Linked DNA regions of Homo sapiens: region 2 is linked to region 1. The links come from fine-mapping of genetic effects on gene expression. A gene starts in region 1. The other region holds a variant in brackets. All regions are shown on one strand. Distances are from middle to middle.

What was found. PIP is the estimated chance that this variant, and not a neighbour inherited with it, causes the effect.
Region 2: its variant is fine-mapped to the expression of ATP13A5-AS1 in whole blood (TOPMed, PIP 0.96).

What each region holds. Positions count from the first base shown.
Region 1 is chr3:193,302,534-193,310,876 of GRCh38, reverse strand. ATP13A5-AS1 (ATP13A5 antisense RNA 1) reads right to left here and starts at 3,633. Exons shown (of 2, transcript NR_046758.1): 1 at 3,477-3,633. ATP13A5 (ATPase 13A5) reads left to right here. Exons shown (of 30, transcript NM_198505.4): 21 at 160-239; 22 at 3,508-3,550; 23 at 5,209-5,318.
Region 2 is chr3:192,849,617-192,857,959 of GRCh38, reverse strand. All of the region lies in intron 1 of MB21D2 (Mab-21 domain containing 2), which reads left to right. Among named protein-coding and RNA genes, the nearest start is that of MB21D2, 64 kb to the left of the region's middle. RefSeq lists enhancers at 6,798-6,847, 6,878-6,927. The variant C/A (reference allele first, on the strand shown) is at 3,832.

The sequences.
Region 1 (8,343 bases):
GTTAAATCTCCTTATTTCCCTTCCTGGTATTGGTCTAATGACATACCATCCAATGCTGTATTAAATTAGTAACCAGGAGTGATTTTTCAGGGCTGTTCTTTTATTTTTAAAAGTTTTCTTCTTCCCAATCATATTGCAATGGTTGTTTTTTCTTTTTAGATTCTGGTGAATGGAACAGTTTTTGCAAGAATGTCTCCTGGGCAGAAATCAAGCCTTATTGAAGAATTTCAGAAATTAAAGTAGGTGTCATGGCATGAAAGAAGAGTGTGCTCATTAACTCTTGCTACCTATGGGTCAATAATTCAGGTGTGAGTCAGAATGGCTATTATTAAAAAGTCAAAAATAACAAATGTTGGCAAGATTGCAGAGAAAAGGGAACACTTATACACTATTGGTGGGAGTGTAAATTAGTTCAGCCATTGTAGAAAGCAGTATGACAATTCCTCAAAGAGCTAAAACAGAACTACCATTTGAACCAGCAACCCCAATGCTGGCTATATACCTAGAGGAATATAAATCATTCTACCATAAAGACACATGCATGTGACTGTTCACTGCAGCACTATTCACAATAGCAAAGACATAGAATCAACCTAAATGCCCAGCAATGACAGATTGGACAAAGAAAATGTGGTACGTACACACCATGGAATACAGTGCAGTCATAAAAAAGAATGAGATTATGACTTCTGCAGGAACACAGATGGAAATGGAGGCTATTATCCTTAGCAAACTAATGCAGGAACAGAAAATCAAATACTGTGTTCTCACTTACAAGTGGAAGCTAAATGATGAGAACACATGGACACAAAGAAGAAAAACACAGATATTGGGGTCTACTTGAGAGCAGAGGGTGGGAGGAGGAAGAGGAGCAGAAAAAATAACTACTGGGTACTGGGCTTAATTCCTGGGTGATGAAATAATCTGTAAAACAAACCTCCGTGACATGAGTTCCCTCGTATAACAAATCTGCACATGTTCTCCAAACCTAAAATAAAAGTTTAAAAAAGGGGATTAAAAAAAAATTCAAGCACTGGCTTGAGTGGGGAAAAAAATCTCTCACCAGCCTCATTCACATGTTGAATGCTCAGTGCCTCATGAGCGGTTGGACTGAACCTCAGTTTTTCACTGGCTAGCGGACAGAAGCCAACCTCAGTTCCTTGTGACAGGGGCCATTGCATAAGGAAGCTCACAGTGCAACAGTTGACTTCTAAAAGAGCAAGCAAGCAAGAAGAACCAGAGACAGAGCACACAAGACGGATGTTGCTGTTTTTTATATGCCAGTCTCATCACCCTTGCCGTATTCCCTTCCTTAGGAGTAAGCCACTAGATCCAGCCCACGTCCAGGGGAGTGGATTACACAGGGCGTGGATGCCAGGAGCTGGGGATCGCTGAGGGCCATTTAGAAGTTACCTATTCCAGAGAGCATTTGTTCTGTGGGCCATAAGGCATATATCTTAGAGAACCCTCCCATGCTTGGATGTAGCAGAAATAGTGGGGCAGGTTGTATAGCTTAGAATCAGAAAAATGGGGAAGTAGGTGCGTTATACCCTGGAATTATTTTAGGTTGGTCCATTAGAAGATATGTGAATAATTTCTGGTCTTCTTAGCAAGAGGTGAAATAGCATTTTGCCTTTATCTGGCCCCAGCAGGGAAAGTCAAGAGAAAGTCCTTTATTACCCCCTTCAAAAATAAAGATGACCAAGTTACCTTATAGTGAAATGGTACTTCTTGAGACCAGATCTACCTACTGGTTTCTGGGAATGTAACAGTTTGGGGCTGCAGAGTCTAGGAAGTGAAAAGGAACATAGGGTAGTGAATCTTTAGATGATGGCTGGTGAGTTGTTGGTGAAATCAGGAGACACCCTTTTATTGTTAGATTTTGTTACCCAAGCATTCATAGGGAAGTCTTACAAACTGCCTATTAACTTCCAGAATGCCTGAGGCTGGGTAAGTAACCAGTGACTAAATGACTATTTCATTCACATGATCATTACATGATATTGCTGAAGAAAGTAATTTTACCTTTTTCAAATGCCTGAGAAATTTTGCCAACTAAAATGCCTAACTTTGAAAAGCCATATTCCCCTTAAAAAATGAATTCAGGAAGACACACACTGCCTCAGAATGAGCTGTCTTCTCAACATCCCAATCTTCCTCCTCATGCCTTTGTCATTGGCAATGTGCATAAGGCTGTCTGCATTCTCTTTCTGAATTCAGGGAATACTAGAAGATGATAAGATTCTTGATGTGATATAGAGACTAAATATGTGCTTTAAGCCTGAAAGAAGGAGCCATTTTTCAACAATTGTGGGTAGTCATGACATGAACATATATAGCATGATTATTTTCATCTACACAGCCCAGTATCGGATTGAACCATAGGGGTGTGCCTACATTTGACTTTTTTTTGTTTTTGAGACAGAGTCTCGCTTTGTTGCCCAGGCTGGAGTGCAGCGGTGCAATATCGGCTCACCGCAGCCTCCGCTTCCAAGGTTCAAGCAATCCCCCTGCCTCAGCCTCCCAAGTAGCTGAGATTACAGGAGCACACCACCATGCCCAGCTGATTTTTTCTATCTTTAGTAGAGATGGGGTTTCACTGTGTTGGCTAGGCTGGTCTCGAACTCCTGACCTCAAGATCCGCCTGCCTCAGCCTCCCAAAATGCTGGGATTACAGGTGTGAGCCACCGTGCCTGGCCACATTTAATTAACTGTTTTTGACCTATAAAAGTGGTTGTTTCTTATGCATTAACTAATAATAACGAAACGCTAACAAAACTTTATTTTTTCTCCTTATTGATTTCATAACTCTGTTTTTAGAAAAATGCAGCTAAGTCTTTAAGAATATTGTCATTTATCAATACTTATAATGTATAACTTATAATAGAAGGCAGGCAGTGTCTTACATCTGAAACTCCTTTTCTTTGGCAGCCGTATTAATTTTTACTCTTCTATTTGTATTGTGCTTGCACACCAAACTGATATAGATGGAAAACATATCTTATTTTCACCCTGACATGCATCAAAAATATGAATATATGTCTCTAGTTATATCTGTTAAACTGTTTTTGAAATTTCTCATCCTGGTATTTGAGCTGTAAATGCTCAGCAACAGTCAGTGACTAAAATGCAGCTGGATTGGGTTATGATCTCTGCATTAGGTTGTGTGGGAAGTGCTCTGCTCATGACTGCATACTCTTAAGCTTGGCCTTGGTGCGTATCATCAAGCAGGACTTCTTTTAAAGTGTGCAATCACTGTTTTGCCGATGTCCTTGGTTATATCACTACCATTTCAATGTGATTGATTGAAACAACTTAAATAACGCAACTGCCTTTTCCCTCTGGGAATATGTCTCTCCAAACCATTTTTCTTCAGCCTGATTCCAGGTGTGTTCAGGGGACACACACATACACACAAATCACATGTGACTTAGTTATGATGGAAAATATTCAAGTGAGCTGTTCATTTTTCTTACCTATTAATCCTTCTTCTCCTGTCTCCCGCAGTTATTATGTGGGCATGTGTGGAGATGGAGCTAACGACTGTGGGGTGAGTAGAAATGGCTTTTGCTCAGACAAGCCACTCACTAATATCCCTCTGGAGGACCTCAGGCTCTCCTGGGGTTTGTCTCTTCATCCTTCCACCAGCAACCATTTGATTATTTTGCTGTTTATATCCACCTCTACCTGAGTGTGGGTTGGAAGCGGAGGGGAGTAAAGGGAGATGAGACACTTCCGATGCTTTCTGGAAACTCCTAGAATAATAAACACAAAGGAAGGCTACTTAGACTCCCATATTTCAGGTTCCAAAGATGGAACTTTACAAGTCTATCTGCTTTAAATCTTTCCTGTTATCAGTAATGAAATGATTTCTCAAGGAGGTGATTTCTTCCCCCCTCCCAAGGTCACACAACTGATAAAGACTCAATGAAACGAAGTTTGAAACTGATGATTAAAGTTTTGAATTATATGTAAATTATATTTATTCCTGCCAAACTTTCATTCTCTGGTTAGTTTTTAAGTTTGCTTCACCCAGAACTCTTTCACTCAGTAAAATCCTAGACCAAACTATTTAGTTATTTTATGCTATAGAAAAAGCTAAATAAAATGATTATCAGCAAATTATTTTTCATATGCAGTAGAAGGGCAGTGAATGTTTTATATTCTGAGTTTTAAAGACATGAAGGAAACAAATAGTCTACCTTCAAGATTATGTACTTAAGGAAATATTTCAGTAGCTGATTTATGGGACAAGAAGTGAGGAAGATTTCTTTGTATTTCCAAAGCTTATTAGAGATTTAAGATCTTGGTATTTGTTTTATTTCTCTCTTAAATATTATTTCCAAATTTCTGTGAAAACTGTGTTTATAGCTAGAAATTTTTATAGCTAGAGATGTTTTTTGCTTTATGTTTCATGAGAAAAAGCTAATTTTTAGTCTGTTCTTTCAAATCTAGAATACGTATCCTCTCACATTAATTATGTGGCGTTTAGAATAAAACAAAAAAATCAAATGCAAAAAGGGACATAGTCTCTGCCTCCTAAAGAGTTCATTGTCTGATGAAGAAAGAATCATGAATAAAACTAACCCTAACATAAAGTAGATGGTCCTAAAGTACATAATAGAGATACGAACTAGAGATCAAAGAGGAAGAAGAAAATGTCCTATTATTTATTAAACCTGAATCTAGTATGTACTCATGGCGCCAGGTACTCTGTAGTTCTGTGGAACTACAGATATATAAAAGTTCATTTTATGCCCACACAATTCTTATAGGATCGGCCTAGGAATTCTTTCACCTTTGTTCATGAAGATTCCCACCAGGTACAAGAACTGAAACGGTGAAGGTCCCCAACCAACGTCCATCCAAATTCTGTCATCTTTTTAATTGAGTTTTTGAATGAGGGCTTCCATCTCCTTTTCACATCTATAATCCCCACAGGCAGGGCCCTTGTATGCACATGCCCACATGCACACACGCATGCATGTACACACACCACTTTTCTACCTCTGGGTCATTGTTTAGTTAGTGACTTTGTGGATCAGGGGAGAGAGGGCACTCCAGGTGGAGGGACAGCATTAAACAGAGACCCAAAGATGAAACAGTACAGTGTTATACCTTTATGATGTGAAGAACAGCCTCTTGGTGTTTTAAGAGGTAAAGCCTAACCTGAAAAGTCATGGGTGAGACATGGGCTTATCATTCCAGGCTTTGAAAGCGGCTCATGCAGGCATTTCATTATCAGAGCAGGAAGCATCTGTGGCATCCCCTTTTACCTCTAAAACAACCAACATCCAGTGTGTGCCTCATCTCATCAGGTAAGTCATTTTTTCCTCTTCCAGCCCTACAATCAATGGGCCCATTGTCTGGCTCTGCAGACAGAATTCAACTACAAGCTAAAGTGATAAATGCTGCAACAGAGGAATGGGTGAAGTGCTATTGGAGAACCAATGAAGGGGGCCATTAGTGTTACTCAAGAGTGCTGGTAAAAGCCACAGAAAAGTGACTTTTGCTGAGCCTTAAAGGATAGGTGGGTATCATGTAAACAGTTGAAAGCTTGACTTGATGTTTTAAAACTAATTGTATTTCTTACTTTTTCTCTCCTCTATTTGGTATGTTGGATGCTTCCTGTAACATTTCTCTCAGGAATTTTGGATGGATGAGGAAGCAGAAAGGAAATACTTCATTAGATAGCTTCCCTAAATACTATTACATGTCTCCAAAATGCAAATTAGTAAATATCCAATATCTTTTACATAAAAAGTTGATTGACAGTGTCAGGGAAGGGGAAGTGATATGGTTTGGCTTTGTGTTCCCACCCAAATCTCATCTGGAGTTGTGGTTCCCAGCCTGTTGACTGGATCATGGGGGCAGTTTCCCCGATGCTGTTCTCATGATAGTGAGGGAGTTCTCATGAGATGTGATGAATTTTAAAGTGGCAGTTTCCCCTGCGTGCTTCCTCTCTCTTGTCTTGTGAAGAAGGTGCCCACTTCTCCTTCACCTTCGCCATCTTTGTAAGTTTCCTGAGGCTTCCCCAGCCATGTGGAATTGTAAGTCAATTAAACCTCTTTTGTTTACAAATTACCCTGTCTCAGGTAGTAATCTTTATGGCAGTGTGAAAATGGACTAATACAGGAAGCCATTAACAGACGTTTATTTTCACAGCATGCTTCCCTCCCCTCCACTCCACTCTGATTTCTGATCTCATGTCTACTTATATTTTAAATGTAGTTAAGAACAAAACACCCAGTTTTATGTTTTATTCATAAATCTGATTTATCTATTGTTTCCTATAGCACTTATGGATAATTTCTGGGCATTTTCATGGGCAGTGATCTGAAAACCATCACCAGATTTTGAGATTCATACAAAAAAGACAGCCATGAAGTTCCCCAGCATGTCCTTTGGTGCATCAGAATAAACAGGTCACTGGCAGGAATCACTGACCTAAAGGTAGCAGGTCTAAAATTCCACACCCCTGGTTGGCTGCATATCAGCAAGACAGCTTTACACAACACCCTGAACACTGGGTGTCTGCACGTGTGTCCTTTCACACCCTCAAACACGATCACTTCCCCTGCCTCCAAAGCAGCTCCTCTTCCCAACTCCCACTTTCCTTGCTTCTAAGAACAGTCTACTCCTTGGAGTCTGCCATTGAGGTTCAGACCCTTAGAGTGCGTGTAACTCCTTCCTCTTCTTCACCCATAACCAAACAAGCATTATGTTTTACTGATTTATTTTGCAGAGTATCTCTAAGCCCTTTGGTTACTATCTCTAGTGTCTTAACCTTGGTTTGTGTCATGGTGACTACATGATGATAGTACTCAGAACCCTCGCCTTATTTTATGCTTTCCATTGTCAATACAACTCATGGAGCTCTTTACAAGTGTGCTTGGAAATGTAAAGAATGAGAGAGTCTTGCCCCCGGAGAATTTACATTCCAGCAAAAATTATGTGTGTGTGTGTGTGTGTGTGTATGTGTATGTATATGTGTAACATGTTACATATATTTACATAAATACATATATACATATATATGAATGTATATATAAATATGTGTGTGTGTGTATATATATTTATATACACACACACATACAAATGAAGTGGATGTGGGTCACTTCCCATGTGGATTGCTTCTGCCCTGACCAGAGGAGGCTGAAGGAGAGCTGGTTTGCTGAGGTCCCACTCTCGCATCACGTGCTGCTACCTCACGTCTTCTTTTAACCTGTCATAATCCACCATTCAGAAAACCTGTTACCGCATTAACAGCTAAGACTGAATTTTTTTAAAGGAGAAATATCTCCTTTACATATATACATATATACATACATTAACATATATACACACACATACACACAAATATATACATTATTTATTGAGTGTCTCTCATGCATCAGGCATGTTTTATACACACACATACACACACAAAATTATATATATACAATGTCTGATACATGGGACGTGCTCAATAAATTTGCTTGAAATAAATTAATGTCCAAACAAGACAGCAAATGTTCTGGCAGTTGAGTGTGAGAACTCAAGCCAGGAGGGAAGCTTTCAGTAGGGGAGTTGCAACTTGAAAAATGGGTGAGACTTATGTAAACAGAAAGGAGGTGAGAAGGAATTCCAGGTGGGGAAAATGCGGCAGCCATGTTTAGACACAGTGTTGTAACTGGAGAATGCAGGGGCCAGTTGGTGCAACTGGGCTAGAAGACTTCTCAGATGAGAATTGTGGTGGTTAAGCTAGACAACCAGATGTGGAGACCTTGCAGGGAGTTTGAGCTCCTGGATAACAGTGCAAAGTGCCTACTTGATCCATTCAACATGCAGTGGCATTCGAACTTCAGATGCTCCTCCTCATGCATGTGGCCCAGTGCATTTATGAGTGCAGTGTACTGTTACGGAATACAAGTCATGATGTAAAATTTCTCCAGTGGCAGATGGCTCAGTAAGACGCTAGGGTAGAAACTCCTTGCTTTTATATTTCATAGACTCATAAAAATTAGATATGGTTCAGCTCTGTTAGGCTCATTTTACTTTTTCTATCCTTGATGCATACTTATTCCTGAGAAAGCACTCCAGAGAGGCAATGAGATACAGTTTTAGATGCATAGGATCAAATCCACGGATTTTCATCTTTGTCTTTTGAAACATGATTTACTTGTTGCTATAGTTCAAGTCCTTTAGGGCAGAGACTGTGTCTTAGTGATTTTTGTATCAAGCATTATGCCTAGCACTATGCTGGGTATATCAGAGCATTCAGTGAACGTTTGTAGAATGCGTAGATAAATGCATGAGCTACTTAAAATTCACAATCATTAGGAATAGCAGTAATTTTGGAGG
Region 2 (8,343 bases), 450 kb after region 1:
AGAGATAGGGTTTCTCCATGTTGGCCAGGCTGGTCTCGAACTCCCAACCTCAGGTGATTCACCCTCCTCAGCCTCTCAAAGTGCTGGGATTACAGGTGTGAGCCACTGCGCCCGACCTAAGGCCGCTTTTATCATATGTGATTTTGCCAGATCCATTGACTTATGAACTGAATTCCTCGTGCAGCATGTTTCCACCTTTGTCCCATGTCACAGATGAGATGGTCTCAGAAGGAGGAGTCTTCTTCCCTATCTGCATGGAAGGCAGAGTCAGGATTGATCATATGCCTTCCTAACCCACAACCAGGTTTTTTTTTTTCTCTTTAGCCTAATTTTTGTAATTCCACAGGGATTATGTACACGTGGAGTAGTCACGCTTATGGCAGGAACTGGGTCCAGAAGTTCGGCAAGATGCGCACGCTGAAAGGGATAGAAGAATGGTTTCTCTTTGAGTCTCCAGCAGCTCTAGGCTGTGCTCGGCTCCTTCTGGCCTGGGTTGGAGATGCCTGTTTAGAAATCTGTAGCTGTTTCTCCTCTGGCATCTAATGAATTCTGGCTGACTTTGAATGTTCCCTTGACACGACTGCAGTTCTTTAAAGCCCATCTTCCACATGGAATTGGCAGGTTCATTTAATTGTTTGGGAGCCAGATAAAAATGCTTTGTTCTTTGTTCTTACATTATGCCATTTCAGAATATCTCTTCTCCCACAAATTGCCGAGACTGTTCAATTTGAGCCTTCAATTGCTTCTCTCTGAGCAGATCTTTCAATTATTTTGCAGGGCCTGTTGTTTTTGATTAGGCAGTTAGAATATCAGCTGGGTTTCTTAATCTATTTATTCATATTTCTGCTTGCCTTTCTTTTTTCTACCTTTAAGTCTCTTTTATTGTGAAAAGCATGCAGTCATAGCAGCTGTAATGAAGTGCAAGTACTTTTTTCTTGTTTGCTGGCTGTAGTATGTGATCATTTTTTCCTTTGCTTATGTTTTAGGGTGATAATAATGTCCTCATCATTGTTATTATTTTTCTTTTTAAATCAGTTACTATGCTTAGATCTCAAACAGACAGAAGATAATTAGTAGATAAGAGAAAAACCAAAAATGCTGTGATTTGGCCAGGCACAGTGGCTCACACCTGTAATCCCAACACTTTCGGAGGCCCAAATGTGCAGATTGCTTGAGTCTACAAGTTCAAGAACAGCCTTGGCAACATGGTGAAACCCCACCTCTACAAAAAATAAAAAAATTAGCTGGGCTTGGTGGAGTGCACCTGTAGTCCAGCTACTTCGGAGGCTGAGGTAGGGGGATCGCTTGAGCCTGGGAGGCAGAGGTTGCAGTGAGCTGAGATTGCACCACTGCACTCCAGCCTGGGTGACAGAGCAAGACTGTCTTAAGAGAAAAAAAACAAAAAACAAAAACAAAACCCTGTGATTCAGATTTCAGAAAACACGCAAGGGCAATGCCAGGTGCTGAGGTAGAGCCATGAGAAAGATTAACTGGGTCTTTTCTTCCTGGTGCTTATTGCCTAATTTCCCGTTTCCTTATTTCTCCTTATAGCAATCAGGTAGGATAGGCATTGTGATTCTCATTTAACTCATGGGAAAACTGAGATTTAGAGTAGTGAAGTGATCTGCTCAAGGTTGCAAAGTTAAAAGAATTGCAGCTGGATTTTAAACCTAAGTGTGGAGTCTCCAGGTTTAGTGTTAGAGTCTGTGTGCAAGCGACTGTAAGTTACTGCCTCAAACCAGACCTCTAATAAGACCAGAGTGTCCCCTCTGAATGCAATCAGAGTCTCCTCCTGAGTGATTTTATTCTGAACATTGGAAACATGACAACATGTAGGTCTCTGATTCTGCCTTTGTCTTGCTTTATTATTATTATTTTCTTATTAAGTTTTTATTTACTTTTTGAGACAGAATCTTGCTTCGTTACCTAGGCTGGAGTGCAGTGGTACGATCTCGGCTCACTGCAACCTTTGCCTCATAGGTTCAAGTGATTCTCCTGCCTCAGCCCCCGAATAGCTGGAATTACCTCTCGGCTAATTTTTATATTTTTAATAGAGATGGGCTTTCGCCATGTTGGCCAGGCTGGTCTTGAACTCCTGACCTCAGGTGATCCTCCTGCCTTGGCCTCCCAAAGTGCTGGGATTACAGGCATGAGCCACCATGCCCAGACTGTCTTGCTTTATAACTTCTTTGAAGCTTCATTTTCTATCCTGTAAATGGAGGAGGTAGAAAAGGAGGAGAGAGAAAGTGGAGAGGAGGTTAGTCATCAAGAGAATGGGTTCTAGAGTATACAGACCTAGTACTGAATCCTGGCACTTCTGTGTTTTGACTCTGTGTTTTAGAAACTGGAACTTCAGTTTCCTTATTTGTAAAATGGAGATGATACTGCATAGAGGTATACCTCAAAGATATTGTGGGTTCAGTTCTACACCACCACTAGAAAGTGAATATTGCAATAAAGTGAATCGCACAAATTTTTTGTTTCCCATTACCCTATACTGTATTAAGTGTACAATAACATTTTGTCTAAAAATATACATATCTTAATTTAAAAATACCTTATTGGCTGGGCACAGTGGCTCACACCTGTAATCACAGCACTTTGGGAGCCCGAGGCAGGCAGATCACGAGGCCAGGAGTTAGAGACCAGCCTTGCCAACGTGGTGAAACCCCGTCTCTACTAAAAATACAAAAATTAGCCAGGCGCGGTGGTAGGTGCCTGTAATCCCAGCTGCTCGGGAGGCTGAGGCAGGAGAATTGCTTGAACCTGGGAGACAGAGCTTGCAGTGAGTCAAGACTGCACCATTGCACTCCAGCTCTGGGCAACAGAGCAAGACTCCATCTTGGAAAAAAAAAGAATTATTGCTAAAAAATGCTGATAATCATCTGAGCCTTCAATTTTACTTCACAATTACTCATTGGTACATGAGTTGCAGAATAGATATTGTATCAGCAGACTGAAAACAACATTAGTTTTATTGTACATCTCCATCAGAGTGCTTGAGTGACCAAGTGCATTGTCAGTGAGCAGAAATATTTTGAAAAGAATCTTTTTTTCTGAGCAGTGGGTCTCAACTGTGGGCTTAAAATATTCAGTAATTCACCACGCTGTAAACAGATGTGTTGTTATCTAGCCTTTGCTATTCCATTTATAGAGCACAGGCAGAGTAGATTTAGTGTAATTCTTAAAGACCTTAGGATTTTCGGAATGGTAGATGGACATTGGCTTCCATTTAAAGTCACCAGCTGCATTAGCTTCTAACAAGAGAGTCAGCCTGCCCTTTAAAGTTTTGAAGCCAGGCATTAATTTCTCTCAAACTATGGAAGTTGCATTGACATCTTCTCTGAATGCAAGACTGTTTCATCTCCATTGAAACGCTGTTTACTGTAGCTACCTTCATCGGTTATTTTAGCTGGAGCCTCTGGATAACTTGCTGCAGCTTCCACGGCAGCACTGGTGACTTCACTTTGCACTTCTATGTTATAGAGATGACTTATTTCCTTAAATCTCATGAGCCAGTTTCTGCTAGCTTCAAACTTTTCTTCTGCAGCTTCATCACCTCTCTCAGCTCTCAGAGAATTGAAGAGAGTTAGGGCCATGCTCTGGATTGGACATTGGCTTTTGGTATTCTATCTAGACCACCAAATCTTTCCCCATATTAACAACAATGCTGTTTAACTTTCCTATCATTCATGTGTTCACTGGGGTAGCACTTTTAATTTCCTTCAAGAACTTTTCCTTTGCATCCACAGCTAGGCGAACTGTTAGGCACAAGGGGCCTGCCTTTCAGCCCATCTCAGCTTTTGACATGCTCTCCTCACTAAGCTTAAC[C/A]ATTTCTGTCTTTCGACTTAGGGTGAAGGACATGTGTCTCTTCCATTCACTTGAACACTTAGAGGCCACTGTAGGATTATGCACTGGCCTAACTTCAAAGTTGTTATGTCCCAAGGAATAGGGAAGCCCATGGGGAGGGAGAGAGCTGGGGTAACAGCTGGTTGTGGAGCAGTCAGAACACACTATGAGTGTGATTCATGGTGCCCCAAGACAATTACAATAGTAACATCAAAGATCACAGATCACCATAACATATAATAACAATGAAAACGTTTGAAAGATTAAGAGAATTACCATAATGTGACACAGAGACGCATGTGAACCCTGCAGTTGGAAAAGTGGTGCTCACTTGCTCGATGCAGGATTGCCACAGACCTTCAATTTGTAAAAAACACAACTATCTGAGAAGCACAGTAAAGCAATGCACCATCAAACAAGGTGCGCCTGTACTTGTAAGTCTTTTGAGAATAAAAAAAAAAACAAAACACCAAAAACACCAGAAATGTATGTGGAACATTTAGCGTAGTGCAAAATAAATATTTTCAGCTATTTTTCTGTTTGGGTCATTGATTCATTTGCATATTCAGCGTGCATGCATTGAGTGACACTCAGGTGGGAACACCACTGCTGCTGTTGCAACCCCTATTTTGTTACTTAGGTACTTAGGGGCACAGTAAGGCATTATAGATAAGACATGGTTAAATCTGTGGTGAGCTGAAACTGCATAGGTGTCCAGTGATAAAAGTTACCTTCTATTAAATGCTACCTTAGTGTGAAAAACCATTTGTCACGGAAGTGCCTCCTAAAGAAAGGAGTGTTAAATTCTGACAGGGTCAACACGGGATGGAATGGCGGTTGGTTGGTGTGGAGATGTGGAGTGAGTGTCCAGAAGTGGGAGAAGACCTTCGAGGGGTGATGTGGTTGGTGGGTGTGGTTGGTCTCAAAGACCAGGTTAAGGAGTCTAGGCCTCATTCATTCATTTGTCCATTTATAATGCTGGGACTATATGGAAGATGGATCAGAAAGTCAATATACTGAATATAAACCAGGTAAAAAGCAATGAAAATGGTCTCAGAGAGAGAGAGAGAGAGAGAGAGAGACAGAGAGAGATAACTGAAAACTGGATTTAGGGCAGTGATAAGGAGAAAGAAAAGTAGCTAACAGAAATGAAAGATGATGGGATATTTTAAAAAGCACTTTTAAGAATCTGGATTTCAGATGGTCATAAAAGTAGGAACAGGAAAACCTGGAGTAATTTGGAAATGCAGTGAGAATGCTACAGACAGAGGATGATGGGCATCTTGGTTAAAGTGACTGGAAGTGGGGGTCAGTGGTGGGGAGCTCATTCTGAAAGTTCTAGGGCAAAATTGGAGGATTTGCCAGTCAACTGACCTTCACCTGCTTCTGGCAGTCATCCACCTCTCAATTATGTTAGCCATACTAACAAATGGACATTGGTTTTTATTTTGCTCTCATTATTTAACATTTCCTGTATTTATTGCTTTTGGATTCAAAAGGATGCAAGAAACTTAGTCTGTTTTTTCTTTTCACTATGAAGTAAAGAGACTGTTTTCCTTGTTTGAGGCAATTGCTTATTTCTCCTTCTGTTTTTCCCCCGTTTAAAATGTCCTGCTACAAAATGACCTCTAGAACCTGTATATGAAGCAGGTTGCAAGGTGGTTCAGCTGAGTGCTAGAATATATTTAAGAATACTTTACTGACTGTCAGTTCAAGCAAAAAACAAAGCAAACAAAAACCTGCTGCTTTGAAATAAGGGCTATTTGCTTCCTATGGCTTTCTTTCGCCTCACAACCTGTCTTTCCAGTTTATTAGCTTTTGTAGCAATTACATCGATTGAAGAGTGACCATACAAATAGGTCTGCATTTTGGAAATGGGTGCTGTGCATGCTGAGTGGTGTCTCTGAGTGTGAATCCTGGTGAAAGGATGAAGGAGGCATCTCGCCCCATATTTTCTCTCCCTGAACTGGTCTGTCTCAGTTCTGCTTTCTGATCATTTCCCCTGTTGGCAGAACCTGCCCTTGACCCTCAGCCACAGTGAGTCAGTGTACACTGGCACGACTCCAGATGCCTGGGGGATAAAACTTTGCCCAAGTTTGCCAATCATTCCTCGAAGCTGCCCAGTTGTTCTAGTCTTTGTTGATGTTTCCTAGAAAATTTTGGCTCCACATTTGTCATGGTTACTTAGTTTATTTGACAGCATGTCTTGCTTTGTGTTGGATACTTTAGAGGATACAGCAGTAAGACTTGGGCACTGTCTTGGAGTAGCTCAAAGAAGAGGAAGATAAATAATAATAACCTTTTAAAAATCGGCCAGGCATGCTGGCTTACGCCTGTGATCCCAGCACTTTGGGAGGCCGAGTCAGGGGGATCACTTGAGGTCAGGAGTTCAAGACCAGCCTGGCAAACATGGCAAAACCCTGTCTTTACTAAAAAAAAAATACAAAAATTAGCGGGATATGGCGGTGCATGCCCTTAATCCCATCTACTCTGGAGGCTGAGGCAGGAGAATCGCTTGAATCCGGGAGACGGAGGTTTCAGTGAGCCAAGATCGTGGCACTGCACTCCAGCCTGGGCAACAGAGTGAGACTCCATCTCCAAAAAAAAAAAAAAAAAAAACAGACAAAAAAAAAGTGTACAATTTAGTGGTTTTACTATATGTACAAAATTCACATTGATCACTCTCTAATTTTGGAATATTTTTATTGCCCCCAGAAGAAACCCCATACTCATTAGCAGTCACCTTCTACTCCCCACTCCCCAACAGCCCTTGGCAGACACAAATCTCCTTTCTGAATCTATGGATTTGCCTATTCTGGACATTTCATATAAATGGAATTGCATAATAGGTGGCCTTTTGTGTCTGGCTTTTTTGACTTAGCATAATGTTTTTAAGGTTATCCGTGTAACAATACTTCATTTCTTTTTATAGCTTAATTCTATTCTATGGTGTGGCTATACCTCATTTTGTTTATAGGAGCCATATCTTGAGTGTGTTCTATGTTCATTGTTCCATGAGCTTTACCTTTTAAATTCATTCGTCTTCATAATTACTTCATAGGTGCAATTACTATTGCCATATTGCCAGTAAAGAAGAAGGCATAGATAGGTAACACAGCTAACAATAAGTAGCAGAGCAAGCTTGGTTTAACTGCAGAGTCTGTGCTCTTAACCTTACTCTTCCCGCCACACACTGTGAGTCACAGGATAGAAGACATATTTAAAAATGAGTGTAAACGTGGGAGGAAGTTACAAAGGTCTTAAATGACTGTGGAGTTCAGTAGCTCAGAGTTGGGGGTGGCCTGTGGCGTGGGTGTCTGTTACAGTGTGCTGTACTTTGTCATTTGTACTGCCCTTCGGATTATGGTGCGCAGTGGATTTGAGGCATCACAGGGGATCTAGGCCGCAGGGAGACGGGACGGGGCTCCCAGTCCACTGACAGGTTTGCTCAGGGCTGATTCGGCAGCGTGCAGGGCTGAGCCTGAGGCCAAAGGTTTTCAGACGTGTATGTGTATCTGGGTGGGGCCTGGCCTGTGCAGGCAGGGACTTGATAGCAGGCACCTCTTTTCTGTGGAATGTGGAGAAGTACAAGCAAGTCTAACCATGCTGCCCGGCTCACCACACATGCGATGAATGACGGAATGAAGGAGAGATATGGTGGGTGGGTACTAGAGTTGAGAGCCTCGAACCTCAAGTTGCAGAGACCGTGCAGTGGCCTGCCTTGAGAGGTATACAGTCTGTCCACATCTCTGTTACTCTGCTGGAGCTTGCTGTCTAGATTCTACTAGGAGCTATCACCCAGGTTCTTTCCTTCAGTGTAGAGTCTGTCTCCTGGGAGATCAGAAGTCCCAGCTTAGTCTTTTCTTAGTGGAACCCCAGAAAATTGTTCTATGGGCCGGGCGCGGTGGCTCATGCCTGTAATCCTGGCACTTTGGGAGGCCGAGGCGGGTGGATCATAAGGTCAGGAGTTCAAGACCAGCCTGGCCAACATGGTGAAACCCCCTCTCTACTGAAAATGCAAAAAATTAGCCTGGTGTGGTGGCACGCGCCAGTAGTCCCAGCTACTCAGGAAGCTGAGGCAGGAGAATTGCTTGAATCCAGCAGGCAAAGGTTGCCGTGAGCCAAGATCGCACCACTGCACTCCGGCCTGGGTGACAGAGTGAGACTGTCTCGAAAAAAAAAAAAAAAGAAAATTTTTATATGACATGTTTCTGTCTCTGACAGTTTATTCACTCAGCAAACATTTATGAGGCTCTTCTGTGCCAGGAGTTGTTCTAGGTCCTTGGGACATATGAGTGAGCAATATATAATATAGAAAAGGACTTTTGCTGTCTTTATACTATTCTGCCAGGGCAAACAGAATAATAAGCAATAGACATAAATAAATATAGTTTTTTTTATTTAATAGAATAAGTGTCATGAAAAAAGGTTGAAGTAGAGCAAAGTAAAAAGGGATATAAAGTGGTTGAAATATTAAATAAAGTAAGACGGTGA